Regions from separate parts of the Homo sapiens genome. Here all the other regions are linked to region 3. Evidence: fine-mapped expression QTL. A gene starts in region 3. Each other region holds a variant in brackets. All regions are shown on one strand. Distances are between the middles of the regions.

What was found. PIP is the estimated chance that this variant, and not a neighbour inherited with it, causes the effect. A credible set is the group of variants that fine-mapping cannot tell apart.
Region 1: its variant is the best candidate, but not a certain one, in a credible set for the expression of ADRA2C in cerebellum (GTEx, PIP 0.85).
Region 2: its variant is the best candidate, but not a certain one, in a credible set for the expression of ADRA2C in adrenal gland (GTEx, PIP 0.68).

What each region holds. Positions count from the first base shown.
Region 1 is chr4:3,706,552-3,716,520 of GRCh38, forward strand. No RefSeq gene overlaps it. Among named protein-coding and RNA genes, the nearest start is that of LINC02171, 34 kb to the left of the region's middle. RefSeq lists enhancers at 6,999-7,500, 7,501-8,000. The variant T/C (reference allele first, on the strand shown) is at 6,061.
Region 2 is chr4:3,634,583-3,644,551 of GRCh38, forward strand. LOC112268461 (a long non-coding RNA gene) reads right to left here and starts at 776. Exons shown (of 4, transcript XR_002959775.2): 1 at 209-776; 2 at 1-85. RefSeq lists a silencer at 6,228-6,411 and an enhancer at 8,468-8,999. The variant G/A (reference allele first, on the strand shown) is at 4,923.
Region 3 is chr4:3,760,738-3,770,706 of GRCh38, forward strand. ADRA2C (adrenoceptor alpha 2C) reads left to right here and starts at 5,648. Exons shown (of 1, transcript NM_000683.4): 1 at 5,648-7,789. The coding sequence starts at 5,870. The coding sequence ends at 7,258. RefSeq lists enhancers at 253-786, 787-1,320, 7,353-7,870, 8,063-8,748, 9,435-9,969.

The sequences.
Region 1 (9,969 bases), 54 kb before region 3:
CCCTACCCTGTGAACACAGGGGCCCTGCCATCCGTGCGGGGGTAGACAGGAGTTTCCCTGCCCACCTCACTGGGCCAGATCCCCTCCTGGTGGCTTCTGGAGATGCTCCCGTCCTGGCAGTGGCTCCAGGTAGGAGCCACTCCCCATGCTGGACACCCAAACCTCCCCAGCCCATCTCGGGGTGTGACCAAGCTCTGTTGCTCCCAGCCCATCCCAGGGTGTCACCAAGCTCTGCTGCCCGACAAGTCTGGGGCCATTGCCAGGCCTGGTGGCCTTGATTTATTGGGAAGAAACATAATACTTTGGAAAATTATTTCCTTCTTTCTTTTTTCCTTTTTTTTTTCTCCAAAGAAATTGGAGAAACCTGTGGTTTGCAAATCTGCTGACCCTGCAGGAGGCTTGGATGGCACCAGCCGGTGTTAGGAAAGCCTGGGCCGAGACAGAAAACACCTAGAGGCAGATCCAGCCCATTTCGGGGAGAAAGTGGGTCACTGTGGGGCTGTCCAAGTAAACTGTGGGCTGGGGAGATGGTGAGCACCCACCATGGGGTACAGGAGCAGACACCACGTCCCTCCTTCAGAAAGGGGTCCAGCCTCACCCTCAGTGCCCATCCAGCTCCCAACATGGTGCCCGTGGGCATTCTGGGTCCCACTGTCCGTGCCTATTCTGGAGTGAGGTCGGCGCCACCTGCCCTGGCCTCAGTTTCCTCATCTGTCACATGGAGCTCCTGCCTGGTTAGGAGAGCTCTGGGTGCTGCTGGCTAGGGTGGACCACAGTCCAGGGACGCAGGGTGCGAGGATGTGCTGGACTCAGGGGCTGTGGCAGTGCATTGGTTTTGGCACAAATGGCCCCAGATAGTGATGGGGGGACTGCACCCCACAAGCCATACCCAGCTTCCTCTGCCGCCACTCCTCTGGGCATGGGGCCTTGGATGCCATGAAGATGCAGGACGCTGAGTCGCTGCTGCAGAGCGCTTCCTGGCCACTCCCTCCCTTCCTTCTCCGTCTGTTTTCCAGCACCTCCTCCTCTGTCCATGCTTAGAGGGTCAGTCAGCTGTGTCCCCGGCCTCTGCTCCCTGTGCACCTGCCTCCTTCCATCCCAGCGCTGACCACAGCCTGGAGCTTCAGGCCCAGTGTCTATCCACACCCTGGACATTCCCCGGAGGCTGCAGGACCTGGAAGCTCAGCTACACTCTTACTCACTCATCAGTGTGTTGGGCCGAGGGAGTCCAAGGCTGCAGGACCGCCACATCTGGAATATCCATGGAGGGGGTTCTGGAGGAGGCTGGAGTGTCTGGGAGCAGAATGTGCCAGTGGCGGAGGGTTGTGTCCAGGGTGGTTCTGGTCATACCGGGCAGAATAGCAGAGGGCAGAGAGCTGAGGCTGCGAGTACAGCGTGTCTGGAGATGGGGTGATTAGATCCATCCAACTTAGGTCCTGGCCGATGGTAGTTCCTGCAGGCAGGGGTGGCTGGCAGATGAGTGCCTGGTGTGGGGCCTCAAGTGTGAGCTGTGGCCAGCGTGAGCCAATTTAGGAGCTAAGAGCGAGGCCTACGGGAGGTACTTCTGCCTACTCTCTCAGAGCACACTGAAGCTGTAGGCTTTGTACCCAGGCCTCTGGCTCCCAGTACAGGCTCTCTCCGCCCCACGCCCACGCACCCTCCCTCCTCCAGCCACTGCGCTGGGGGCTCTGCTGGCTACACACTGGCTCCATCTGCTCTGGGCTGCATGGCAGGAATTTTTTGGATGACTCCTGTGAGGCAGCAGTCCCTTGGGGAGCCTGTGGTTCCCCCGCCTCTCTCCATTCTCACTCCCGAAATAGAGCCTGGCCCCGCCCTAGGGGACTGGGGGCTGGTGATGGGGACAGCCAAGCCAAGGGCCATGTGGTTGCCTCCGCGGACGCCCACTTCCTCCTGAAACCATCGTGGAGACAGAACGGGGAGGTGGCCAGGGGGCCGGAGCTGCCTCTGGCCTCTGCAGGGTGGAAGGGCCCCCAGAAGTCTTTCTGCCCTCCTGGGACTTGGTTCCTCTTCTTTAAAGGGGAAGGTGATATTCCCCTGTCCACCCTGAATTTACTGCAGAAGGGGTGAACGAACCCACCAGCACTGAAGGGATGGAGGTCCGCAGGGCTTCACATCAGGGAGGGACCAACAGGCCAGCCCTTGCAGATACCCCAGCCCGCCTTCGCTCTGGAGCACTCGGCCCACTAGAGTTTCCCCTCACCACCTGCATCCCATCCCATTCTGCAAGACTCAGTGCAGGATGTCGCAGGTGCTACCTGGAGCCTCTGACCCTGGGGTCTCAAAACCAGGATGGAGCCTCCAGCATCCCTGTGTGCCCCAGAAGGACACCAAGCCGGCAGAGAGCCATGCCCAACCCTCCTGCTGGGACTGCACCCTCCAAGGACCTCAGCCAGTGCTGGTGGCAGCGGGCTGGGCTGCAGGCCTCTCAGCCCCTTGTTGGGCCCTCCCATCCATCCATCCATCCATCCATCCAATTATTCAACCACAATCCACTCCCCCAGCCTTGCACAATCATTCCCCAGGCTACCTACCCACCCACCCACCTGTACATCCCCTCACCCATCCACTCACACATTCAGGCATATAGGATTTATCAGAAACCCACCTGCTCCACCTCAGACCAGCTCAGGTCCCAGGCATGCCAGCACATCTCCAGGCTGCCCGGACTTCCATGATTCACACATTCAAAGGTGAAAGCAAAGATCCAGGCCTCAGAACTGCTCATCACGTCACACTCTTGGATCCTAATTAATATCCAGACTTTGGCCGTGGGAGCCCTCTGTGAATGTGTGGCATGGGACTCCCACTGGGACATGGATTACAAGGGTTTCGCTGCTGGAATCAGCTACTGGGGATGGGGGGTTATGGTAGCCATTGAATTCTAGGACGGAAATGGAGGGAGCCTAGAGACGCCTGCTCTGACATATACGAGCTGTTGCCACTGACTTCTTAGGGCTTCCTTCCATGATATTTATTCAACAAGGAAGTGCTGAGGCCTGCAGTGCCTGGCTCTGGGCTAGGGGTGATGATTCAGCAGGAGCGACGTGTTCGGGACCACCTCCGTCATGGGGGTTGTTCAGGGAGGGGTGCTGCACTCTTGGCTGATTGTCCACACCACGGTCTAGGAGCAAGGCCGCACCCCAAAATGCTGTTTTGTGCTAAGAGGGACCTGGAGGACTGTGAAAAGGAGGCCCCTTCCCACAACCTCCCCAGGTCTGGATGCATTTTGGGGGTAACAGGAGGTGAGAAGGGCTCAAATTAATAATCGGTCTCTGTTTGGGGTTGTTTTGGCTGTCATGGAGTAGGTGAGGGGAGCTGCAGGTACTGTGAAAACCCACCGAGGACCTGGGCCAGGGCCAATGGAGCCCTCCTGGCAGGGGGACGAGCTTCCTGAAGGTCATGGTCAGGATTTCACGCCCCAGACACAAGGAAGCAGCCAGAATCCTCTACCGAAGGCTTGCGGACTCACAGCCTCGTCCGGAGCACTAGCGTGCTCATCCAGGGGAGGAGGCCCGGAGGCCTCCAGCCTTCCTGACCTGAATTTCATTCAACCAAGTTCCCCGCTCCAGGGTTTGCAGGGTGATGATTTCCTAACCCGGTTGCAGAACTTTGCGCTAATTTCTGGGACGCCTCGGGGCTGTCTGCTGCCTGGAAGTCAGAAGGACCAGGACTACGATCTCTGCTCCGCAGAGTCCAAGCTGTGTGACCTTGGGGGCGTGGCTTCTCCTCTCTGAGCCTGCTTTGGTGCTTTCCTCCAGAGAATTGGAGGAGAGAGCTGAGCGGCCCCACATTGCTGCCCTGTAACCATGTATCCAGCACTTGGGACACCCAGAGGGATCAGACTGGACCCATCCCTGCTTCTAGGAGCCCCACCTAGAACACTCACCCAGGGGGCAGAGAGCCGGGAAGCACCGGCCGGGAAGGCGGCTCGTCCAGACTCTGGAAGCGTCTGATCTTCTGAGGCTTCTGCCACAGTGGCCATCCTCTGACAATCCTGCCCACCCACCCCCCGCAGTGGGCTTGCCAGGCCCTTCCCGGCCCTGCTCCTGCCCTGTCCCGGGGAATCTGAGGTCTGCCAGGTTTCCATGGCCACAGCCTCTCTGCTCTGGAATTTGCTAGTCCAGCACACCGCGGTGGGGGAGTGGGAGAAGGCTGTGCCTCCTGTCAGGAGGCATGGAGGGAGGTCACGCCTGACCACGCTCCGCATTCCAGTGGAATTCTAACTCAGTGTGTGCGGGGAGGCACACAGAAGGTTCTGGTCCTCCTTGCGGGGGGCCTTCAGACACAGAGTGGCAGTGGGGACCCTGGAGTGAAGGGGGTCCTGCTGCGGGTTCGCTGTGTTGGTGGCGATGGCCACCCACCCTGATTTTGCAGGTGTGGGGCCTGGCTTGGAGGGGGCATGTGTCCAGGGTCACTCGAGGCCAGCCTGGCCTGTTCTTGCTCCTGCTCTGTGTCACTTATGGCATACCCAACCCCCCTTGCCAGCTCCTCAGCTGCAGCTCCTGGGGTGGCCAGGAAGCTTCCAGATCCACATCCCCTAGGGGTCCCACCAGGGTCTTCGTCGAGCTCCCTGTCTTCCTAGCACCACCCTCCACCGTGCTTCTCCCACGGCCCTGTCAGGCCTCTATCAGGAGCACGCAGCAGAGCAATTTGACATTTTGGGCAAAAAAAAACCGAGAAAATGAGCATCAGCAACATACTTGGTGATGGAGCCGGCTGCTCTGTCTCCCACATGCAAAGCCTGTGCTGTCTGCAGAGTTTGACTGGCCCGTGTGGAGCTGCTCCCTTCCACGTGGTCAGGAGCAGGCTTGAGCTTATCAAGGTCTGGGCATGCTTTGCTCGGTAAGAAAGAGGGTGGGAGCAGACCCCTCGGGCAGAGGAGAAGGAGACCCGCACAGACGCCCCGTCCCGTCCCCAGTGCGGCCGTCTTCGCCCTCTGTGGACCTTCTTGGCCGTGGATTGACTATTCAGAGGCTGCCTGCTCCTCCGCCCAAGGTCTGCTACACGGCGGGCAGGGATGTGTGAGGCTGGCTGTTTGTTCCGGTTTCCCCAGAGTCCAGGCAGGGCCAGGCCCACAGCAGGAGTTCTGACCTATTTGTTCAATGAATGAATGCAGGAATGAATGAGTGAGACCTTGTGCCAGCCCCCGGTGTTGGTGCTTTCAGACCACTCCCTCTCACGGCCCTTGGATGGGGCGTCGTTACCTGGCTCTCGACGTCACCAGTGGTGGAAGTGAGGTGGGCGTACCATGAGGAGTATCACAAAGTTGCCCCAAACCTGCTTTGAGCTATGACGGCAACACCGAGGCTTTTGCTTTAGGGGACACCCCAGAACTCAAGCATCCAACTGTGGTCATCCTGGGGCCACCAGGGGCGGGGCTGTCCAGGGCTGGCCCTGTCTACCCCGTCCCTACCCTGTGGGTCCTCGTCCCAGCTGGCCTCAGCCCAGTGCGCTCCCCTAACCAACGCAGCCCAGAAATCATACTGGGGTCTTCGGATGTTGTCTGTATAGGCAGTCCCTGAGCTGGGAAATGACGGGGTCATATTTGTGGACAACAAACTTCTTCCTCCTCACCCCAAACCAGAGCCTGTGGCAGGGAGAAGGACAGAGCCAGCCCACCCTGCCTCCACCTCCCCAACACCCTCTGCTTCTCCCCATGACCCGGCCACCTGGGGCACATCCTTGCCCTGGGGTGCCTAGCAAACTCCTACACAGACATCAAAATCCAGCAGGCCCCCCTCGACTCAGGGCAGGGACTAGGTCTTCTCTCCTCTGCTCTCTATAGCACAGGGAGGATGGAATATACTGAGGGACAGGATCCCCCCTTTACTGATGGGGAAACTGAGGCCACACCTAGCGCAACAATCTCCAAGTTGCAGAAACCTTGGTAGCTGGTGCTGGAATTTGGAGCCCCTAATTCCAAGCCTGCTGTGGTCCCTTCCCAACCATGCTGCTCGGTTGTATGTGCCAACCTGGCCAGGCCGTGGTCCCCCATGATCCCAACACATGTCTAGAGGTTGCTGTGCCAGTGTTTTGCGA[T/C]GTGACGCACATTGGCAGTCAGCTGACTTTAAGGAAAGGAGATGGCCCCGCATAGCCTGCGGCAGCCTCATCCAATCCACTGGGGCCCTCGGAGCAAACTCTGAGCCTACGTGGAGGAAGCAGGAATTCTGCCTGGAGACTGTGGTGGAGAAGCCCTGCCTGGGTCTGCAGCCTGATCCGCAGGGGGATCTTGCCAGCCCCCACAACTGCGTGGGCTGATTCCCTAAAATACATGTCTCAACATGGACCTCTCTCCCATCAGCTGTTTCTCAGTGGAGAATGCTGACTGGCACATCAGCCGGGACCTCTCACAGTTGTGGGCCCTGTGACCCTCACCTTGCTCCCATCATCCTGTCCAGCCGCCCACTCCTCCCCCTCTGCCCCGGCCAGTCCCCACACCCAAGCGGAGTTCCAAGACGGTCCCAGCAGCACTGCCCGCTGCTGCCTCTGAGAGCACAGCCACTGCGGGGCCAGCGCAGCCACTGAGGCGATTAGAGTAGGGCAGGCCCAGAAGGCCAGAGTCGCCTGGTCACGGGGGCCACAAGACTTGGGGCAGAGGTCGAGAGTACAGGCCTTGGAGCTGGCCCCCGCCCAGGTTCAAACCCCGGCTCGGTCGCTTGCTATCTGCATGGCTTCCAGCACGTTCCCTCAGTCCTCTGTGTGCCCCTATAAACTACAGACGAGTGTCGCGGCGGCTACAAGCCAAGTGCCCAGAGCTGTGGCTGGTGTGTGGTATGTGTGTCCCAGGAATCTCAGGGCTGCAATGATCACTGTGCAAAGTCCCACTGAGCCGGGTTCAAAGCCCACACGCCCCTCACTCCCTGTATTCAGGGCTCTCAGGAAATAGAACCAATAGGACGGATATGTATAGAGAGATAGCAAGAGATTGATTGTCAGGAATGGGCTCACTGGACCCTGGAGGTGGACAAGCCCTGAGATCTGCAGGTGGCAAGCTGGAGACCCGGGAGAGCCAACGGTGCAGTTCTAGCCTGGAAGCTGGCAGGCTGGAGACTTAAACCCAGGAGGGGCTAATGGTTCAGTGCAGGCTGGAAGGCCAGCGAAAAACCAGCTCAGCCGTCAGGCAGCAGGAGCTCCCCTTACTCAGCCTTTCTGCTCTATTTGGGCCTTCAACTGATTGGCCGAGGCCAATCTGCTCTCCCACACTGGCGAGGGCCATCTGCTTGACTCAGTTTGCCCATTCAAATGTGAATCCCGTCCAGGGGCACCTCACAGACACCGCCAGAGTCATGTTGGACCAAATATCTGGACACATTGTGGCTCAATCAAGTTGACACGTAAAATTCACCACCACGTTCACAAACCCAAATTGAGAGCCGCTGCCGCCGCTGTGGGCCTCACTCTGCAGTGTTGCCTCAGTTTCCCTGGCTGCACAGTGAAGGGCACGCTGTGTGACTCCAGCACAAACCCCAGCACCCCTGGGATCAGCAAATGGCAGGAATGACTGCTCCAGCAGTGAGAGCTGAGGCCGGGGTCACAGCAAACCATGGACACAGACCCTGCTTGGACTGCCATGGCACTACCCCAGGCTCTGCCCAGCTCCTTCCCTATTCTGTGCTGCCTGGGCCTGTCCAGCAGTCTCGGTGTGTGTCGTGTCTGTGGGGTGTATGTGTGTGTCTGTGTGTGTGTGCATGTGTGTTTGCATGTGTCATGTCTGTGGAGGGTATGTGTGTGTGCATATGTGCGATGTGTGGATGTGTGGATGTGTGTGTGTGTCTGCATGTGTCTCTCTGTGTGTGTGCATGTGTGTTTGTGAGTGTGTGCCATGTCTGTGGAGGGTGTGTGTGCATGTGTGTGATGCATGGGTGTGTGTGTGTCTCTGTGTGTATCTGCATGTGTCTGTGTGTGTGTGTGCATGTGTGTTCGTGTGTGTCATGTCTGTGGAGGGTGTGTGTGTGCATGTGTGTGATGTGTGGGTGTGTGTGTATCTCTGCATGTGTCTCTGTGTGTGTGTGCATGTGTGTGGGTGTATGTTATGTCTGTGAAGGGTGTGTGTGTGCATGTGTGTGATGCGTGGATGTGTGTATGTCTCTGTATCTCTGTATGTGTCTCTGTATGTGTGTGTGCATGTGTGTTTGTGAGTGTATGTCATGTCTGTGGAGGGTGTGTGTGTGTGTGTATGTGTGATGTGTGGATGTGTGTGTCTCTGTGTGTGTGTGTGCATGTGTGTGTGTCGTGTCTGTGGAGGGTGTGTGTGTACGTGTGATGTGTGGATGTGTATGTGTCTCTGTGTGTGTGTGCCTGTGTGTGTGTCATGTCTGTGGAGGGTGTGTGTGTGTGTATGTGTCTCTGTGTGTGTGTGTGCATGTGTGTGTGTCGTGTCTGTGGAGGGTGTGTGTGTGAGCATGTGCATGTGTGATGTGTGTATGTGTGTGTGTCTCTGTGTGTCAGTGTGTGAATGCACACAGCTGTGATCAGGTTGGAACTAATTGCTTGGAGCCATAAGCTTACCTTGAATTCAGAGTTGGTTATTTTGACCCAAACTTGAACTCCACATTTTCCAGTTCACTAGCCTTGTTTTTTTTTTAAGTAGTTTCCTGACTTTGATCAAAAACAAGCCAACAAACAACTGGAAAGAACGAGGAAAGGCTCCGGGCAGCCTTGGCAGGTGCAAATGAGAAACGAATGCCGCACGAGGCTCTCCAGTTACACATGGGCTTTCAAATAGAAGCTGGAGGAAGTATTGGGAAAGGTGGGTGCGCCGGGGCTTCTCACCTTGGAGGCCGCCCTTCCTGGGGTCAGTGGGGGGCATCCCTGTGCTGTAGTTCCTGGGTCTGGGGGCCGGTGGGGGCAAGGCCCAGGAGCCAGGCCTCCCCACGAGCCACGCTGCTGACAGATCCACCCACTCCAGCAGCCCAGCAACCGCGTACCGTGGTGACACTGCATCACTGCCCCTCCTGTACAGAGCGGGCTGGGGCTCGGGAGACTTGGGAGCCTGTCACGGTGAGCTTGGAAATGGCAAAGCCAGGAATTCACTAGGATAGCTGATCCCATGCCTGGGCCTGCTACCGTATCGCATGAGGGCGTCTCCCCACCGGGCGCACAGCCTGTTCCCTCTGACTGAAATACTCCTCCCTGCCCTTGCCACTCATCTTTGCTAAGAGTTCTAGAAAGCAGAGCCTGAGGCATGGATTAAGCGCTAAGGGTTTATTTGGGGAGGGAAGGGTGCAATTTCAGGGCAGCAAGAGGGAGGAAAAGGGAGGGGAGTCAGGGAAAGGCAGAAACGACGCAGGTGACTAACGGGCGAGCCGTGGTCCCCGGGAGCAGCCAGACGTCCTCATGGGATGAGGACGTGCCATGCCTGGCACAATCCCCTCAGAAGGAGGACGGGGAGGACGCCCTCCAGCTCCCGTTGCCCATGGGGCTGTCTTCCTGGGGAGTTGATGCCAGGCTACCTCTTGTAGATGCTGGGAAAGGCACTCCTGTGCCTGGTGGCTGGGCCCTTGGACAGAGTCTGGTAGTAGAGGAAGGATCTGGAGATTCTGGGACGGGAGATGGTCAGCCCCAGGCCAAGAGGCCACAGTTTCCTGCTCAGCAGTGTTAGAAGCAGGGATGGAGCAGAGTGGCCGGGGGTTCACGAGACAGGGGTGTCCCCCGCAGGCTAATTTTGGCTCAGCCTCTCTGGCCTGGCTATCCTGGAGCTAACCTTGCACTAACCCAGAACCCCACAGGGTGACCTTATTTGGAAATAGGGTCTTTGCAGAATTGAGGTTGTACTGGACGAGGACCAGCCCTTGCCCCGATGACAGGTGTCCCTAGAAGAAGAAGAGGTGGCACCGACACAGACAGGGAGGCCCCGGGACCACAGAGGCAGAGACGGAACCGTGCAGCTGGGAACCCAGGACAGGCAGGAAAGATCCTCCCTGGGGGCTTCCAAACTTGTAGCCCCCA
Region 2 (9,969 bases), 130 kb before region 3:
TCCTGACGCCCCATCTCTTCTGGGCATTACTGTCACCTGTCGCATGCCCCAGGTCCGCTCAGCATCTGCTTCCTGAGGACCTGAGCTGACCAGGGAGGGGTGTGGCTGAGGTGCTTCCCTCGTGGGCTGCTTTGCCCACCAGGGGATCTCCCCCAAGTACTCACGGGACTCTCCAGGGGACCCCCTGTAGAACCAGGACCACCCTTACCAGGCCTAGGACCCTCCAGGACTCCTCATCTGTGGGACTGGGCCTGGCTGGTCCCTATGACTGAATTGAGTGGTGAAGCCACCTTCTCCTGGCTCCAGGAATCTCATGGACCCGGGATCTTGGGTGTTCACCCCTAAATCCTCCCTAAGGCCCCTCAGGCCACCCTGCCCTGCCAGGAGCCCACCCTAAAGGTGAGTGAGAGGCCTCCAGGCAGAGGAGACAGCCAGGCAGGGCCATGAGCAGGGCCGGGGAGGAAGCTACGTGGTGAGCCCGGAAAGGCCGGCTCTTTGCTTTGGGACTCAATGTTACTGACCTCATTTTTTATGTATCCGAAGTGATCGTTTCAAAGAACAAGCCATAAAACTGGACTCTGCAGATGTTTCTCCATAAATTAAACAGGCATGTTTACCTTGGGCTGAAGCAAAACAAACTTGAGGCCCAGGGCCTCAAAACCATCATGGAGGTGGGGAGTGCTGAGAAGCAGGGAGCGAGGGAGGCAGGGCGAAGGGCGGGAGCAGCGGGAAACCACCAGGCCTCTCCCCTCACCACTCTAGGCCCGTCCGTCGGTGCAGTGACATCAGCCTTTGTAAAACACAGGGACAAACCAAACGGTTCCTCCCATCCTCAGTCAACACAGCTGACTGATCACCAAAACATGTGCGTTTCTCCCCACCAGCAAGTGGTCCTGCAGTGGACAGCAGCCGGGGGTCCTCTATTCAACTCCAACCTGATGCCGTCCACCCAGGGTGAGCCTCAGAGCCCACAGTGAGGGCTCAATCCCGCAAGACAGCCCCCGCCCCCTTCAGATGCTGGTCCCACCTGGAGTGACGTGAGAACCCACAGTGAGGACTCAGTCCCGCAAGATGGCCCCGCCCTTCAGATGCTGGTCCCACCTGGAGTGACGTGAGAGCCCACAATGAGGGCTGAGTCCTGCAAGATGGCCCCCACGTTAGAGGCTGATGGCAAGTCCCGGCATAGCCTGTGCTTCTGACCAGCTGGTTCTAAGTCAGGGTTCCCACGACCCCCGCCTTGGGTTTAATTTGCTAGAACAGCTCACAGAACTCAGGGAAACACTTTATGCATGTTTACTGGTTTATTCTAAAGAACACTGTGAAGGATAGAGATGAAGAGATGCGTAGGGTGAAGTGTTGGGGAGGGGCATGGAGCTTCCATGCCGTCCTGGGCACTCCCTCCAGGCACTTCTGTGTGTTCAGCTTTCCAGGAGCTCCCTGAGCCAGTCCTTTGGGTTTTATGGAGGCTCCATTACTCAGCCTGATTGATTGCATCATTGGCCATTGGCAATCAACTCAACCTTCAGCCCCTCCCATCTCCCCTTCCTAGCCTGATTGATTGCATTATTGGCCGTTGGCAATCAACTCAACCTTCAGCCCCTCCCATCTCCCCTTCCTAGCCTGATTGATTGCATCATTGGCCGTTGGCAATCAACTCAACCTTCAGCCCCTCCTATCTCCCCTTCCTAGCCTGATTGATTGCATCATTGGCCATTGGCAATCAACTCAACCTTCAGCCCCTCCCATCTCCCCTTCCTAGAGGTCAAGGGGTGGGGCTGGAAGTCCTAATCCTCTAATCATGCCTGGTCTTTCTGGGTGACCAGCTCCATCCTGAAGCTGTCTAGGAGACCCCAGCCCCCAGCCAGCTCATGAGCACACAGAAGACACTCTCACCACTCCAGAGAGTCAAGGGCTTTAGGAGTTGTATGCTGGGAAACAGGGACAGGGCCACATATATACTACACAGTCTCACAGTCCTCCCGATGGCTGCCTCTGTCCTGACAATGTGGTCAGTACCACCCCTTGATCTGCATCTCACTGGGGACAGTCCCCCAACCCCATCCATCTCAACACCTTCTCCACGAGCAGCTGGGCAATTGCTCTGAAATGCAAGTCTGATAATGGCCACCTCCTTGGAGTTCGTGCTCCAAGTCCCATCTCAAAGGAGGCCCACGCCACCCACCGGGCTCAATGTTGCCCCTGCTGCACCTCTTCCTCTTGCTCCTGCCCCCTGCTCCATGTTGATATCTCCCCCCATAGCATGACCACCTCCTGATGTGCTGTGTGACTCACTTGCCTGGTTTCCTGTGTGTGGGCTGTCTCCGTGGGGCAGAGACTTTTGTCTGTGTTCTTCCCTGGTGTGCCCAGCACAGTACCCTGCATCATGGGGTGGTGATGGAAGGACAGCAGTGACAGCATGTATCCGTCCAGCACTTGCCAACCCTGGGCAGGCACTGGTTGGTCTTCCAGAGGACTAAGGCGATGACCACTGTTACCAGTCACGGAGGAACATCAGATGAGAGAGGCGAGGACCTCGCCCCAGGCCACAAGGCTGAGACCTGTTCAGGACAGGCTTCAAACCCAGGCGCTGACCCTGGTCTTCGGTCTTACCCACTCTGCACTCCTGCCTCTGAAGCTGGTGAGGTGGGGGCCAGGGTTCAGCAGGTAAGCTCTCCCCAGTGTGCCTTGTTCTTTCCAGACAGGAAAGGCTTGGGATCTCATGGGTAGGAGAAGTGAAAATCACTGATTATTTGGTGAACACAAGCCAGCTGGGCACTCACTATGTGCCAGGCACAGTGTGAGGCAATGGGGCAGTCCCCATGCTCAAGGAATCCCAAGTCTGGTGGGGGAGGTCAACAGGAGGCAGACAACGGAGGCACGGTGGGGAGGGGCCGGGATGGGTGAGGCATCTAAGGCAGGCGTTGGGGCCAGGAGGCTCTGGAGGAGCTGGTGTCTGAAGGGAGACCTGAAGGAGAGGCGGAGATGCCAGGCCGCGGCGGGGTGGACAGGATTCGGACAGCAGGGGGAGGCTCAGTTCCAAGTCTTTGGTTGCAAGCAAAGAGACGCTGGCTCCAATGGACTCAATTTTAAAGAGATTTTCAGAGATTTCCAATTCCAGCCAAAATGGTATAACAGGGAGCAATAAAAAACAGCCAAAGCTCCAGAGAGAACAAATGAAACATGGCGTTCATGACATTGGCTGCAGTTCAGCCAAGGAGCGCAATTGCTAAGAGACAGGAAACCCGTTCTGCGAGCCAGCGCCTCCCCAGCTCACTGCCTGCAGAGAATGTCCAGGCTTCAATGCGGGATGCCGTGGCCAGGCCAGCAAAGGACATGAAATAGACCCGTAATACATTCCCAATGAATTCAGAAGAAGGTGGAAAAAGAGGAAACAGGAACCCAAAAAAGGGGGAAAAAACAGCAAGACGACAGTTTTAAAAGTGATCATTAATAATTAAATATAAATGTTCTAAACACTTCAATTTAAAGGCAGAGTTTGCCAGATAAAGAAAAAGAAAGAACCAAAATATGATAGGCATAAAAAACTTTAAATATGCAGGCAAAATAGGATAAACCTGAAAGAATGGAAAAAGACATACATGCAATCACTCATCAAAAGAAAGCTGGAGTGGAGATGTTACTCCCTAAGTAGACTTCAGAGTAAGAATGGCCGCAGGGATGAAGGGGTCACTTCATGACGCCATGGAGGTCAGTTCATTGAGGGACATAACATCCTCAAAGTTTATGCACCTTCTAGCAGACCTTCCAAGTCGAAACAACTACAAAGCAAGATGGAAGTTTACAATTATAATTGGAGATTTCAACACTCATCTTTCAAAAGTTGACTCAAGTAGACATAAAACTGGCAAGGATATAGAAGACTTGAACTCCATCCACCATCTTGACCTAAGTGACGTTTATGGAAACCCTACCCTGACATCAGCAGAACACTTCGTTTCAAGCACACACAGAACATTTGCCATGACAGGTCATATTTTGAGTCATAAAACAAGACTTAATAATTTAAAAGGACTTGAATCATTTGAAATATCTTCTCTGACCACAGTGGAACTAACTTACAAATCAATAGCAGCAGCAGAAAGACATCTGGAAAATCCCCAGATATTTGGAAAACAGCTAACACATTTCCACAGAACTCTTGAGTCAAAGACGAAATCAAAGGGAAAATTAGAATGTGTTTCTAACTGAACAATATATCAACATTTATGGGATGCAGCTGAAGCAGTATTTGGTGGGAGTTGTATAGCATTCAAATGCTTGTATTAGGAAAGAAGGCAGGTCTCACATCAATGAACTCAACTCCCACATCACAAAACCGGAAGAAAGAAGGGCAAATTGAACCCAATATAACTAGAAGAAACGGAATAATAAAGATAAGAGTGGAAATCAGTGAAATGGAAAACAAAAACAACAGAGAAAATGAATGAAACCCAAAGATGGTTCTTTGGAATATCAATAAAATTCATAAACCTCTAGCTGTAGTGGTCAGGAAAAAAAGAAAGAAGATGTAAAGCTTCACTATCAGGAACAAGAGACATGATACCACCACAGACTCCACAGGTGCTTCCGTGATAACAAGGGAATACTGTCAATAACCTTAGGCCAGTACATTTGACAGCTTAGATGAAATGGACAAATACGCTGAAAGACACAGACTACCAAAGCTCACGTTGGAAGAAACAGAGACCCTGAATAGCCATGCTGGTATTAGAGACATTGCATTCTTAGTTAAACACTTTTCCATAAGGCAACTTCTGGGTCCAGAGGGCTGCAATAGTGCATCATAGCAAACATCGAAGGAAGAAAGAATGCCAATTCCAGAGATACTCTTCCAGAAAATTAAAGAGGAACAAACACTTCCCAACTGTTCCCTTACTCAGTCTCTGGTGGTTCTGCCGGGC[G/A]TCGGGCTGTATGAAGGCCCAAGGGGTGAACAGATCAAAGGAAGGCACAGTGTTTGCTCTGAGTCTGCAGCCTGCCTGGGGAGTCAGGATGCTCACACGGGGCCCAGCTGCCTGGGATGTCCATGTTCAGTGCCAAATTGTGAGGTTGGGATATAAACACTGGCCCCATCCCGGCCTCTGCAATAGGTGGGGGGCATATATTATTTATTTTATTGAATTTTCACAACCACCTCGAGGTGCTGTGAAATTTTTCCCTGACTTTAAAGATGAAGAAACAGGTCCAGAGAGAGGCACAGTGACTTGCACCTTGACATGCAGCCAGAAAGCAGTGGAGCCAGGATTCCAGCCAGGTCTGTCTGACCAGCAGCACCGCTCCGGCTACTGCTGGCTGTGCAGTTAGTCCACGAGGATCTAGGGCTCCTCGGGAAGCCCATGGGAAGCCTCGCCTTGGTCTAGGATGGATGGCACAGGTGAGCCAGGGAAGGTGAGTGACCGAGTCAGAGGTAAGAACATCTGGGGTATTTTCAGAACGTTTTCCATAGGTGATGCAGCTTTGCTAAGTGCAGAGTCGGGTATAGGCTTTGGTAGCAAACGGAGTTTATCGTGGGAGGCCTGGAATGCAGGCCTCTGGGTGGTGGTTGGCGGGTCACGGGGAGCTCAGTAAGGTTCTAGAGCAGATGCTGATGTGGTTAGACTCAAAGCCTAGGACTGTGGGGGATGAGGAGTACAGGAGGGGCCGGAAGCAAGAGCTCAGCTCCTTCCGAAGGGTGCCAGTGCTCAGGGAAGAGGCTGGAAGACAGCGGGTGAGGAGTGGCTTAGGGGGCACCTGGGGGCTTGCGACTGATGGCATGGGGTGGGAGGAGGGAGGGGCTGGCAAGATGTGGCTAAGAAGTTGAGTGGGAGGGAGAAGGAGGAGGCCAGGCCCCAGGAGAGCAGGCTGTGGAGGAGCAAAAGGGCCTGGGAGGGAAGAGGGGCTCAGGCGGGATCAGGAAAGCTGAGGTTTGTGGGCACGGGGCTCCAGGTGGAGGACCCCCGGGAGATTCAGCTCTGGAAGGAGGGTGGACGGGAAGAAGGCACAGGAGAGAGACAAGATGGAAAGAGGGTGGACCAGGGACGAGCCGGGAGTCTCAAAGCCATGGGGTCAAATCAGTTAGCCTGGGGCAGACGCTAGGGCGGCCAACGCTGAGAACGTCATGTGGAGGAATGGGAGGGAAGAGGCCCTGGAAACAGCAGAGAGGGGCAGAGAGGGGGCGGTCTGGGACCGTGACGGTGACTCAGCTGCTGTTCCTGAGTCACCCACACGTGGCTCCCCCAGGGACAAAGCCGTCCGTGGGGACGAGGAGGCTGGCCAAGGGCTCCCCAAGGAGCATGGGCTGCTTAGACCTGCCTGGCTCAGAGAAGACTCAGCTGTTCTACTGTGCGATGCTCCGTCCCTTTCTTTCCTGATCTTGTTTTCCTGGAGCGAATTGCCCATCTCTCATTTGCTTATTTTCTATGTATGTCAGGTTCTCCAGTGAAACAAAACCAGGTGTGTGTGTGTCCATGTGTGTATGTGTTAGGGGGACCCACCTTCTAAGCAGTAAGAAGTCTGCATGTAACTCTGGACTCCCTTCAGACATAACCACTAATAGCCACCAGCAGACCGGAAGCCTCACCGTTAACATGCACAGTTGATGAACACATATTTTGTCTGTTACATGTATTATATTCTGTGTTCTTACAATAAAGTAAGCTGGAGAAGAGAAAATGTTAAGAAAATCAAAAAGGCCAGGCACAGTGGCTCACACCTGTAATCCCAGCACTTTGGGAGGCCGAGGCAGGTGGATGGCTTGAGCTCAGGAGTTTGAGACCACTCTGGGCAACATGGTGAAACGCCATCTCTACTAAAAATACAAAAATTGGCTGGTTGTGGTGGCATGTGCCTGCAGTCCTGGCTACTGAGGAGGCTGAGGTGGGAGGATCGTTTGAGCCTGGGAGGCGGAGGCTGCAGTGAACCAAGATTGCACCACCACACTCCAGCCTGGGTGACAGAGTGATACCTCGTCACACACACACACACAAAAAAAAAAAAAAAAAAAAAGAGCGAGAGAGAGAAAAGAAAGTCATAAGGAAGAGAAAATCTATGCCTTTGTGCTCCCGTCCTTTGTGGTGCGCGGGCTTTGCTTTGCCGGACGGGAAGTGGCCGAGCCTCGTTTATGAAAACAGTACCAGGAGAAGGCTAAACGTGGGCCCCCTGCCCAGGGCGAGGGACTCCAAGGCATCCAGATGGACTTGCTTGGCCTGAGCTTTGGGAAGTGTTCTCCTAAATGGTGCTTGGGCACCTTCCATTTTCCCTTCCATTTTTTCCCACTCTGGAACTTTCTACAAATCTTCTCCCCGGCAGCTGGGCCTCACTGTAGTGCTCGGGTCTTGCCTTTGTCTCTGCGCTTTATCTCGGTACATTTTTATTCCACTTTCTGGGACATCTTCACCTCCTCTTCCAATCTTTTTCTTTCTTGGGTTTTTAGAACTCTGAAGACGCCCAGCAAGTGGGTGGTGCGTGGAATGAAGCGGTGGCTCCCGCGTGCTTCGTGCGGGTCGGTTTCCGGGGCTCTCGCGTGCTCCGCGTTGGTCGGTTTCCGGGGCTCTCGCGTGCTCTGCGCGGGTCGGTTTCCAGGACTACCGCGTGCTCTGCGCGGGTTTCGGGGACTCTGGCGTGCTCTGCGCAGGTCGGTTTCCTGGGACTCCCGCGTGCTCTGCGTTGGTCGATTTCCGGGGCTCTCACTTGCTCCGCGTTGGTCCGTTTCCGGGGCTCTCGCTTGCTCTGCGTGGGTCGGTTTCCAGGACTCTCGCGTGCTCTGCGCGGGTGTGCGGGGCTCTCGCATGCTCTGTGTGGGTTGGTTTCCGGGACTCTCGCGTGCTCTGCGCGGGTTTCCGGGGCTCTCACGTGCTCTGTGAGTCGGTTTCCAGGACTCTCGCGTGCTCTGCGCGGGTGTGCGGGGCTCTCGCGTGCTCTGTGTGGGTTGGTTTCCAGGACTCTCGCGTGCTCTGCGCGGGTTTCCGGGGCTCTCACGTGCTCTGTGCTCTTCTCCAGGCATCTTCTTCTTGTCCCACCGTCAGGATGCCGTGTGCCTGGGAGAGAGGATTACTTTCCAGGCTGCCCCACAGAAGCGCCATTGCCACCTTCTTCTATCCTCCTCCGAAGGTTTATTTGGTCTCTGTCCTTCGGGTTGGGGGGTTTCTCCATATTAGTTTAGTTCCGGAGCTGGCTGGACCCTCTGCGGGTTCCAGGCCCGTGTTAAGGGAAGGACATCAGTGTGGGGACGGGGGGTACTGAGTGTGTCTGCATGGGGCCAAGTGCTTTCTCCAGATAAAAACCACCCTGTGCAGGCAGGCGGGACAGGTACAGTCTTTAGTCACCCCTGCCTGCCGGACGAGGCTGGAGCATTCCAGGCCTGGTTTCTCCAGATGACACAGCCAGGCCTGGCAGCCCGTCCTTCAGGCCGGGTGGTCTCCTGCTGGGACATGTGCAGGGCGGTTCCTCTGCACCCCTCCAGCAGCTGGAAGCCCATCGGCTGTCCTGGCTCTCCACTGCCCTGAGGGTGAGGGCTGAAATTCCCCACAAGCCGGAGGAGGCCCAGGGCACATGGTCTCTGGATGCGATGCCAGGTGACCTTTCTCTGCCTGGAGGCTTCTCCCCACCTCCCCCACCCCCACGCTGTCACAGGAAATGCCCTCTTCCTCCTCCTCTAGGCTCAGCAAGGATGTGGGGGTCCTGGGGCGGCCTGCCCAGCCCCTGCCCCTCCCTGTGACCTGCTCTGTTGCTGGGGCATGGGGCTGATTTGTGTATGGGGTGTGGGTTTCCCCACTGCCCTGGGAGGCCTGTCCCCTGGATGCAGTACAGGTTAATCACAACAGCTGTGGACTGAGTGAGGTGCCCGGCTGCCAGGCACTCTGGCCTTGTTTGACTCACAGACAGGCTGACACCTTGGAGGTGGGTGAACTGCTCTGGTCATACCATTCCACAGAGGGACAGACCGAGGCTCAGAGAGGTGCAGGCACTTGCTTAAGGTTGCACAGTTGGGCAGGAGCAGAGCTGAGTGGCCTACCCCCATGCCACACTCACTGCCTCTTTGCTGGGCGTTTGTCATGGGGAGGTGAGGCCTTGGCACACCTTGGGCTGGGGCGGGAACACATCCTGCCCCACCAGAGTGGGAGGCCACTCCTGGACGAAGTTCAACCCCTGGCCCTAAGTGGGATTGGGTGGACCTTGTGCAGGTGGGATGGGGGAGCCCCTCAGGGGAGAGACTCTGACATTTCTGGGAGGACACTCCAGGTGGCGGGTGCTGGGGAAGCTCGGCCGCCCGAGGAGACCTAGGGGCTTGGAGGGGTTGAATGATGGCCCTCAATGATATGAGCACATCCCCAGCCCCAGATCCTGCGGATGCGACTTTATTTGGAAAAGCCATCTCTGCAGCTGCTATAAAGTGAAGGATCTTGAGGTAAGGCCATCGTGGATGGGCCCGAAATCCAGGGACATGTTCCTTATCAGAAACGAGGGGAGACGCACACAGGGACGGAGGCCATGTGGAGACAGCGACAGAAGCTGGAAGAGGCAGGAAGAGGAAGGAGCCTCCCGCGGAGCCCCCAGGGGCAGCACCGTCAGGCCGACACCTTGATCTGGGACTTCGGCCTCCAGAACAGGGAGAGAAAACATTCCTGTTGTTTGAGTTCCCAGTTTGTGGGTCTTCGTTAAGGCAGCTCCGGGACTGGGATCGAGGGTCAGCCCAGGCTGGGTGGGATGCCCCAGGATGGGCCAGGCCAAGCTGGTGGGCATCCTGTGCCCTGTGGAGTCCGACCAGGTGCCTCTCTGTGATATTCTGGATGCTCCTCTGGGGTTGATTTCCCAGATACTCTCTCCCACCCTCTAGAGGGTCCTCGCTGAAGCTGCCTCTGTTGCTGCCACGCTTGTGCTGGGCCTGGGGGGTGCTGGGATGGAGTGGGAAGGACGGTGCAGGCTCCCCACGTCAGAACCCTTCCTTGGTTCAGAGTAAGGTCTTGAAGGGTT
Region 3 (9,969 bases):
TGGAGCAGGTGCAGCGGGCAGGCAGAGGTGGGGCTCGGTGGCAACCGAGAGGGTCGGGGGAGGCGGGGATCTGAGCTTGGATCCCAGCAGGGCCAGGGCTGAGGTACACAGCTGGTGCTCAATAAGACATGCTGACCCACTGCTTTAATCTATTACACTCATTGCAAATCAAAGCCAGTCCCCGAAGCAGTTCTTTCTCCAGAGGGACTTCCGCCAGCTCTGTAAGAACTCGACTGTGCCAAACCCATCAATGCTGATCAATATGCAACAGCTCAGAGAGCCAGCCCAGGCCACGGCTCCCTGCCACATCCTGACAAGACAAATCAGCTTCTGGAATTCTTCAGGGAGGGGCAGGGAGAGAAGCAAGCCTCATTTTTCCCTGACTCGTCTTTAAAAATGAAATTTCAAATAAACATAGGGAAAGAAAGCTCAGCTCAGCTCCAGGGAGAAAACATGTCCTCTTGGTCTTGAGACAAGAAGATAGGGCTGGCTTCCCTTGGTTCCCGCACCCACCAGGGCTGAGTGGAGAGGGGTCTCTCCCCGAGTCCAGCCTCTTCCCTTTCCCCTGCGGACACCAACCGAGGGCAGAGATGGGCAGGCAGGCGCCACCCCCACCCCCAGGAGCTCACAGCCAAGTTGGGGGAGGGGGTCACTCAGGGCTGGCATGGGCCTCGGAATGCTCTGGTCCAATGCTCCCATTTTACAGACAGGGGAAACTGAGGCCCTGGAAGCCAGAAGGCTCCCCCACTGCCAGACAATAAGTAAGGGAATGAGCAGGAGCCTAAAGCCACATCTGATGACCCCAAACTCCATGGAACTGAGAAAAGGGCCTGTTGGCCAGGGGCACTGGGGCCTGGCACAAGCAGCCACCAGGTGAAGGCACCCCCTGCACTCAGCACCCAGCAAGCATCAGTGCGGCTAAGGAGGCTAGAGCCAGGCCCACAAGCCCATCTGCCCTTCACGGCACCCATCCTGCCACCAGGCCTTCATTCAGCTCTTTCTGTGAGCTGAGAGCCCAGCCCTGGACCAGGCAGTGGGGATGGGACACAGCTGAGATGTATGGTTACTGATGATGGCCATGCCCCATGGGGCATGCAGGAGGCCGGCAAAAGTGGCCCAGATCCAGCCCGGGAGGTCACGGGAGGCTTCCTGAAGGAGGAACATCATGGGACAAGTCTTGAAGGAAGCGAGCCCCAGGAAAGATGAGGCAGAGGGCATCCAGGCCTGCGGACAGCACATGGTCAGGCCCAGGGTCCACAAGAGTTAATGAGAAATGTCCTCACAGCTCACAGCGTGGAGAGGAGGGCTGACCGCAGGAGCCAGGTGGAGCTGTGCAGACCAGGCAGGCGAGGCAGAACCCAGCCGCAGCCCCGGAAGAGCTGGCTGCAGCAGCAACCCAGAAATACATCTTCTCCTCAGCCTAGGAGGGTGGGCAAGGCCACAGGTGCCGCATATGTGTGTACACATCCATATATGCGAAGCCATGTGTGCACATGCATGACTGGTGTCATGCATAGGGACAGATGTGTGCAGCACAGGCATACACACGTGTGTGCAATGTGCATGGATTCGTGTTATCTGCACAGGGAAGGCTGTGCGTGCCCGCAGTATGCACAGGTGTGTGCACAGCATGGGTGCATCATTTCTACATATGCCAGTGTGATACATATGCATGTGTAGACATACGTGTGCAAAAAGCACGTGTGTATGATAGTGCATATGTATATATGCACCTGCATGTGAAGAGTACACGGGCATGTGTATGCACACGCAGGCATGTGTGCATGTGTGGGAACATGTATGTGTGCATACATGTGTGTATATTCTGTAGGCATGGATGCACTGTAAATCCACATGGTATATGTAGACAGTGTGTGTGTGGATGTGTGCATGCATGTGTGTGTGAAGGCATGCAAGTGTGCATGAATAGGTTGCATGCTTGCATGCATGTGTGGATATGTGTATGTATGGGTGTTCATGCTTGCATGAACACACGTGTATTCATGATATGTATATTCATGTGTGTGCATGGATCTATGTGTGCACAAGGATGTGTGTGGATACATATATGTGTGTGGACACTGTACATCTGCGTATGTGCATGCATGCCTGCATGTGCAGGGAGGGGGCTCAAGGAGCCAAACTCCCCTCCACCCGAGCTGAGGCTGCTCACGAAGCCTAGAGCGCGGCATCCCAGGCAGGCACCCAGCTCTCTCCGGCACAGCAGCCAGGGCCCAATGTCCCATGGCTGTATGGCCCTGCTGGACCAACCCTGTCCTCCTAGGCCCCACGCATCATGGGTGAGATACAGGCAGGTTCGCCTCTGCAGCTCCAGGACGTGCCACTTCTAGGTTCTCAGTTCTAGGAAACACCTGTAGGTTTCCCCTCTGAAATATGCCCACTTCTGCCATGTACTCCCCTGCACACGTACACACAGACAGCCCCCACAACCCCCGCCAGTGCAGCCTGACTCCCCCAGCACCCTCCTTCCTCGCCCCTCCTGGTCGTGCCAGCTCGCGTCGTGCCTCGTCAGGACAGGAAGTCTTGCTGGGTACGTGCTGTTCTGCTTGTTACGGACAATCCGGAGCAGTTCCTCAAGCCTAATTTCAAGGTCTGGGGGAAGAGTCCTCTCCAGCTTCCTTGCAAACAGCTGCGGTCCCGGGCCCTCCCACCACAGGCAGGCCTGCGTGCAATGCAACCCCTATGCATGGCCCAGGGCTTCGCTCCTCCTAATGACTCCAGGCCCCAGCTTTTTGCCCTTGGCTCCATCCAGGCCCTGGAGTGGACCCTTCTGACCCCTCCCTGGTCATGCCAGGAGGTGTTGCCAGCAGCATGTCAGCCTGTTGGCTGCCATCCCCAAGGGCCTGGGCCGCTCACTGGCCAGGCACTCCAGATGCCCTCAGCCTGGCCTGTGAGTGGCCCCTGCCTTCAGCCCTCCTGGGCAGTGGGAGGCTCATCTGGCTCAGGGCCCCAGGTGCTCCGTGTCCTTTTCCCTCCAAATTCCCGTGCCTGGGCTGCCATCTCTTGGGAACATAGGAGCCAGGATCCTAGATAGATCCCCATGCCCCTGCGCATCCCCCAAAGCACTTCTCAAAAAGAGAGCCCTTCAGGATGGGGGTGGGAGGCACGCTGATGCCGAGGGAGAGAGACCTTCTCCAAAGCCTGCATCTGGCCCCTGCCACTGCTCTTTCCTAGTCCTCCTGTCTCCCCACGCCCCCAGTACAAAGCCCACTCCCACTGGAAGAAGGACAGCCTACAGAGGCCTCCCCCTTCCTCATAACACCTCCTCACTCTCTAAGCACAGTTTGGTCACCTCCTCCAGGAAGGCTTCCTTGACAACCCCGCTCCCAGGCTGGGGGAGGAGCCCCAGGGCACTGATGGTTGTCAGCGCATTCACCTCAGTGGGTGGCCCCATCCACCCACAGATGGTGAGCACCTCAACTGAGGCCAGGCCCCCCTCACTCTCTGCCATCGCAGAGGGCTCAATAGAGACAAGGGCTCCAGCGGGCCGACCATGAAGGAAGCAGGTGTGTGTGGGCTTCCCTGAAAAATGCACCTCCAGGTGCCCTGGACAGGTGGCACCTTTTAGGCAACCAGAACCAGGAGGGCCTTTAGTAAGGATGGTGACCCTCCACCATCCCCAGGTCACACACCTCCCACAGGACAGCCATGGCCTGTTGCCTCCCCGAAGGGCATATGTGCCCTAGACTAGCACAGGACTGGCACAGAAGGCTTTGGCTCCAACGTGCGCCCCTGCTTGGCAGGCCCATCATCTGAAATATTTGCTTTCTGCCGGGCCCTGGCTCGGCCTCCACACCCCCAATGCAGGCCCTGCTGGTGACAAACATGGTGAAGAACGAAGCCGTAGCTCCTGGCAGTGTCTCTGCGGAGACAGACATGCTCCCCAGTAGGGCTGAGCAGCAGAGAACACGACAGGCTCTGAGGCTAAAGCTGGCGCCCTTCAGGAGCTCAGAGAGAAGCTGCCCCAGGCCACGGGCATGGATAGGCATCCCGGGGGTAGGGCAGTCACTCCAGCCGCTCTTCATGATGACCTCCCGGGCACTCAGAAGCGCCCCTTCCCCGCCGGTTCTAGCCACAGGATGGACAGACCTTCCCTCCCTCTCTCCTGCGGGCCCATGCAGGGAGAGGCCAGCCAGCTGGGGTTCGTTTCTGGACGTTTGGGAGAAGGGTCGTCCCTTCGGTCCTAGCAGAGAAACGTCAGGCCTGAGAACTCCAGCTCTCCTCCTGGATCACCTCGTCCCTGGAAGTCCCTCTCCCACAGACCCCAGGCTGCCTGGAGGCAGAAGCCAGCACCCAACATGGGCCACAGAGTGGCAGTGCACGTGGCAGTGCACATCTGCAGAATGGAGGTGCGCGGACGGGGGCGAGGGTGCACGGGGGCTACCTCAACGGCCGCTCTCCCCTGAGCCCACCCTTGCAAAAAGCTCCATCATCCAGGCAGCTCCGTTCTGGGTGTTTGTCAGAGGTGGTGACTTTGAACACCTCTCCATCCTTTAAAAGCAGGGCCTGAGAGCCTAAGGATTAAACTTCAATCACTGCTAACATGGGTGCAGAGCTTGGGAGCTTGCCCAGGGCTTCCACAGACACCGCCGTTAGTTATGATTCATGCTCCAGCAGCGCTGGGAAGTGGGCCGAGGGAACTGAGGCCGGGGTGGGTGCGGAGGTGGCTCTGACGGGGAGCGCCGATCCAGGATCTGGTCCGGACCCTGAGCTCGGCAGGACCTGTGCGCACGCAGGTAGCGTCGCGTCCTCCCCCAGGCTGCGAGAGGTTGCTCTGCCATCAGGCCATGGACCCCGAGCCGCCCGTGCTGCGCGCGCGCGTGTGCGCGCCCCCGCCTGCGCCCATGCCTGCGCCGGGGGAGGCGAAGGAGGCTCCAGTCTTAGAAAGAGCAGCTTCTGGAACTCACCACCCAGGCCGGCCGCCGCTCGGCCCCGTCCCGCAGGCTGCAGGCGGCCCTGGAGGGGGCGCCCTCGCCGAGCGCGCGCCCCGCGCCGCCGCCCCGGACTCCTCCCCGGCGCCGCGCGGGCAGGTTCGACCAGGCGGCCGCGGGCTCCGGTTCCCGGCCAGCTCCCCAGGGCCCGCGGCCCGCCCCGCCCCGCGCGCCCGCCCCGCTGCGCAACTCGACCCAAGTTGGAAGCCGATCGCAGGCGGCCGCACTCGCGCCCAGCGCAGGGCGGCGGCGGCGGCGGCGGCGCAGCTCCGGCGAGCGAGGCGGCGGCCGCACGGCCAAGCGTGGACCGCGGGGGGCGCCCGCGCCCGGGAGCAGCCGGAGGACTCGCGGCGGCGCCGGCGCCCCGCCCGGGAAAGTAAAGTTGGAGACGGAGGGAGCGCGCGGGCGCGGGGGCCCGGAGGAGCGGCGGCCGGCGCCCCGGCGCGCCGAGCCCTAGCCGGCCGGATGGGAGGCGGAGCGCCCGGGCCGCCGCCGCCTGTCGCCTGCGCCCCGGCTGGGCTCCGGGACCGCGGGGCCGCTCAGGCACGCCCGCTCGGGCGCCGCGTCGCCGTGGGCTCGACGCCGGGGCGCTCCCCGTGAGCCGGGCCGAGGGCGGGGCCGCGCGAGGACCCCGGGACCTGCCCCCCTCCCCCCGCAGCCGCGTCGCCGCTCGCTCCGGGCGCCTCCTGCTCTGCACTTACACGCTCGGCAGCTGCGGGGAGCCCGGCAGCCACGCTCTCCGGCGCGCCGCCCGCGGAGCCACCACGGCCGAGGGCCGGCTGCTGGGCGCCGCGGTCCCCGGCGGGCGCGCCCGAGCAGCAGGCGGCGATGCGGGCGCCGACCCCGGCTGGGGGGCGCCCGAGCTGCCGCGGCTGCGCCCCGGCTCCAGGAGGGACGGCGTAGCTCGCGGGAGGACCATGGCGTCCCCGGCGCTGGCGGCGGCGCTGGCGGTGGCGGCAGCGGCGGGCCCCAATGCGAGCGGCGCGGGCGAGAGGGGCAGCGGCGGGGTTGCCAATGCCTCGGGGGCTTCCTGGGGGCCGCCGCGCGGCCAGTACTCGGCGGGCGCGGTGGCAGGGCTGGCTGCCGTGGTGGGCTTCCTCATCGTCTTCACCGTGGTGGGCAACGTGCTGGTGGTGATCGCCGTGCTGACCAGCCGGGCGCTGCGCGCGCCACAGAACCTCTTCCTGGTGTCGCTGGCCTCGGCCGACATCCTGGTGGCCACGCTGGTCATGCCCTTCTCGTTGGCCAACGAGCTCATGGCCTACTGGTACTTCGGGCAGGTGTGGTGCGGCGTGTACCTGGCGCTCGATGTGCTGTTTTGCACCTCGTCGATCGTGCATCTGTGTGCCATCAGCCTGGACCGCTACTGGTCGGTGACGCAGGCCGTCGAGTACAACCTGAAGCGCACACCACGCCGCGTCAAGGCCACCATCGTGGCCGTGTGGCTCATCTCGGCCGTCATCTCCTTCCCGCCGCTGGTCTCGCTCTACCGCCAGCCCGACGGCGCCGCCTACCCGCAGTGCGGCCTCAACGACGAGACCTGGTACATCCTGTCCTCCTGCATCGGCTCCTTCTTCGCGCCCTGCCTCATCATGGGCCTGGTCTACGCGCGCATCTACCGAGTGGCCAAGCTGCGCACGCGCACGCTCAGCGAGAAGCGCGCCCCCGTGGGCCCCGACGGTGCGTCCCCGACTACCGAAAACGGGCTGGGCGCGGCGGCAGGCGCAGGCGAGAACGGGCACTGCGCGCCCCCGCCCGCCGACGTGGAGCCGGACGAGAGCAGCGCAGCGGCCGAGAGGCGGCGGCGCCGGGGCGCGTTGCGGCGGGGCGGGCGGCGGCGAGCGGGCGCGGAGGGGGGCGCGGGCGGTGCGGACGGGCAGGGGGCGGGGCCGGGGGCGGCTGAGTCGGGGGCGCTGACCGCCTCCAGGTCCCCGGGGCCCGGTGGCCGCCTGTCGCGCGCCAGCTCGCGCTCCGTCGAGTTCTTCCTGTCGCGCCGGCGCCGGGCGCGCAGCAGCGTGTGCCGCCGCAAGGTGGCCCAGGCGCGCGAGAAGCGCTTCACCTTTGTGCTGGCTGTGGTCATGGGCGTGTTCGTGCTCTGCTGGTTCCCCTTCTTCTTCAGCTACAGCCTGTACGGCATCTGCCGCGAGGCCTGCCAGGTGCCCGGCCCGCTCTTCAAGTTCTTCTTCTGGATCGGCTACTGCAACAGCTCGCTCAACCCGGTCATCTACACGGTCTTCAACCAGGATTTCCGGCGATCCTTTAAGCACATCCTCTTCCGACGGAGGAGAAGGGGCTTCAGGCAGTGACTCGCACCCGTCTGGGAATCCTGGACAGCTCCGCGCTCGGGGCTGGGCAGAAGGGGCGGCCCGGACGGGGGAGCTTTCCCAGAGACCCGGGGATGGATTGGCCTCCAGGGCGCAGGGGAGGGTGCGGCAGGGCAGGAGCTTGGCAGAGAGATAGCCGGGCTCCAGGGAGTGGGGAGGAGAGAGGGGGAGACCCCTTTGCCTTCCCCCCTCAGCAAGGGGCTGCTTCTGGGGCTCCCTGCCTGGATCCAGCTCTGGGAGCCCTGCCGAGGTGTGGCTGTGAGGTCAGGGTTTTAGAGAGCAGTGGCAGAGGTAGCCCCCTAAATGGGCAAGCAAGGAGCCCCCCAAAGACACTACCACTCCCCATCCCCGTCTGACCAAGGGCTGACTTCTCCAGGACCTAGTCGGGGGGTGGCTGCCAGGGGGCAAGGAGAAAGCACCGACAATCTTTGATTACTGAAAGTATTTAAATGTTTGCCAAAAACAACAGCCAAAACAACCAAACTATTTTCTAAATAAACCTTTGTAATCTAATGTTGGGTGCCGCAGTCAGTCCTTGAGCTTGGGGGCTGGGGGTATCTTCCAGACCCTCACCCTGCCTGACACCCTCCCCCATCTCCCCCACCCCACAATGCTGGACGGAGGGCACCCTGGGCCTCCGGGTTACAACTTCCTTCTTGCATGAGAAGGAGGGGTCTTGCTTTTTCTCAAGCTAACCCTTTATGTACATGGAAAATATGTACTCAAAATTCCTGTGCTGAGAGTAGCGAAGAGGTGAAAGGAGCCTAGAACCCCCAAGTTGACCCCAAGTTTAGATTCTGGGGGACTGTCTTCCCTGCATTCCCATCCCTGCCCCCTGCCCTTCCCCACTCTGATATTCAGGGCCTCCGGTGGAAAGAGGTGGGGCTCTTCCAGTCCAAGACTGAGAGTAGCTTTGAGCTAGTCCTCCTGGCTCTGAACATTTTGTGGGCGTGGCTCTTGGGTGGAGAGAGGGTGGGCGTGAGGCCGGCAAGCCCCCACACCATCACTCTTAGGCCAGAGGCCTGGCCAGAGCCAGGTTGAACAACAGGCACTTTCTTATTTCCGAAACAAACTGAAAGTCATTGAGGCCCCAGAGCAGTGGAGTGGAACAAACCAGCAATGTCTGGAGAGGGGCCTGGGGCCGGCCTGTTTCCTGTGGTGCCCCCAGGGTCTTCCCAGTGCAGCCCTGCCTTTCCCCCTTGCTCCACCGTCAGGCCCAGCAGGTGTCCACACTGTTCACACTGCTGCTTGAGGAAGGGCAGTGGAAAGTGGGGGACAGAATACCAAGGTGGGCTTCCTGGTGCTGGGCCTTCATGGTGTAGGGACCACTCAGACTCAGCCGTGTCACAGGGCCTGGAAGTTGCCAGGATGGCTGGAGGGGAGGGGCAAAAGCGGGACCTGCGCCTGGCAGGAGCTGGGCAGGGGTCCCCCCAACACACACGCACAGACAGCTCGGTAGGCGTGTGGGGGCTGTGTCAGGCCTCCTGCTTGTGACCATCCATTCCCCATTCCCGTCCCCCTTCCCATCCCTGGGAGGCCCCCCTGGGCTTCCCTATGTGTACCCTCCCCTGCCAGACCCTGCCTGCTGAGCCCAGCCCAGATCCATCCTGGATACCCACCTCTCTCTTTGGCATGGGGGGCCAGGGTCTGCCTGGGGAGGGGTCAGCCCTGGGTCCTGTGTTCTTCTGCAAGCCCCCGTCCGCGAAGTCAGGTTCCAGAGCAGGGGGACCTGACTTGCCAGAGTTGGCCCTTGGAGAACCCCCTCGCCGCAGCTGCCTGGCTTCCACCCCAGATGATGGGTCTTCAGGATACCCCAGCTGGGAAGAGCTCTCCCAGCCGTGTCCACAGCTGGCACATGTGCTAATGCTCACACCTGCTGTGTGCTAGTCTCAGACACAGGTGGGGAGATACAGACAGCAGTGGGGGCAGGGGAGGGGTGGAGAACATGGCCAGTCAAGGCCGATGAGGACATCCCTGACCTCCCCCGACCAGGCCTGGGCAGGGAGTCCTGAACTGTTGGCCCAGCTTGTCCTGGAGCTGTTGTACTGGCTCAGACAAATCCCTGCTCTCTGGGCCTCGGTGCCCCACCTGGGAAGTGGAGGGGGTCCTGGGAGCCCTCTTGGGCCCTGCCAGGCCTGCCAATCTGTTGGGCAATCTATCCCCTGAGCCTGGGACCACAGGAGACCCCACCTCAGAGACTCCATGGCTGACATCGCACCCAGGGACACTCTGAGGGCAGGCCTTGGGCTGCGAGAGAATCACTGTACACACATGAAAAAGACTCCAGAGCTCAGGATTTCTGCTCCAGAATCTGCATCTTACCAAGCCGGCAGGAGGGGTCCAAAACTCACAACTGCAAGACGGGAGGGCAGACCCCCAACCCCTCACCTGCCAGCACTCAAGACCCCAAGTCCCGCCCAGGGCACCCTTCCCTTGAGAGCACCAGCATTTCATGGGATAACTCGTACATTTCATGGGACTCAGAGAGGTGGATTAACCTGCCTGAGGTCACACAGCTGGTGATAAGACCCAACAGGGCCCAGGTTTCCTGGCCCCAAATTCAACCAGATAACAAGTATTTCTTGAGTATCTCCACCATTTCCTACTGCCTCCTGGGAGGTCTTCAGGAATGGGCAACTTCCCACAGCTGAGGGCAGACCCCACGTGGAGGCACAGCATGATGAGCAAGGGTT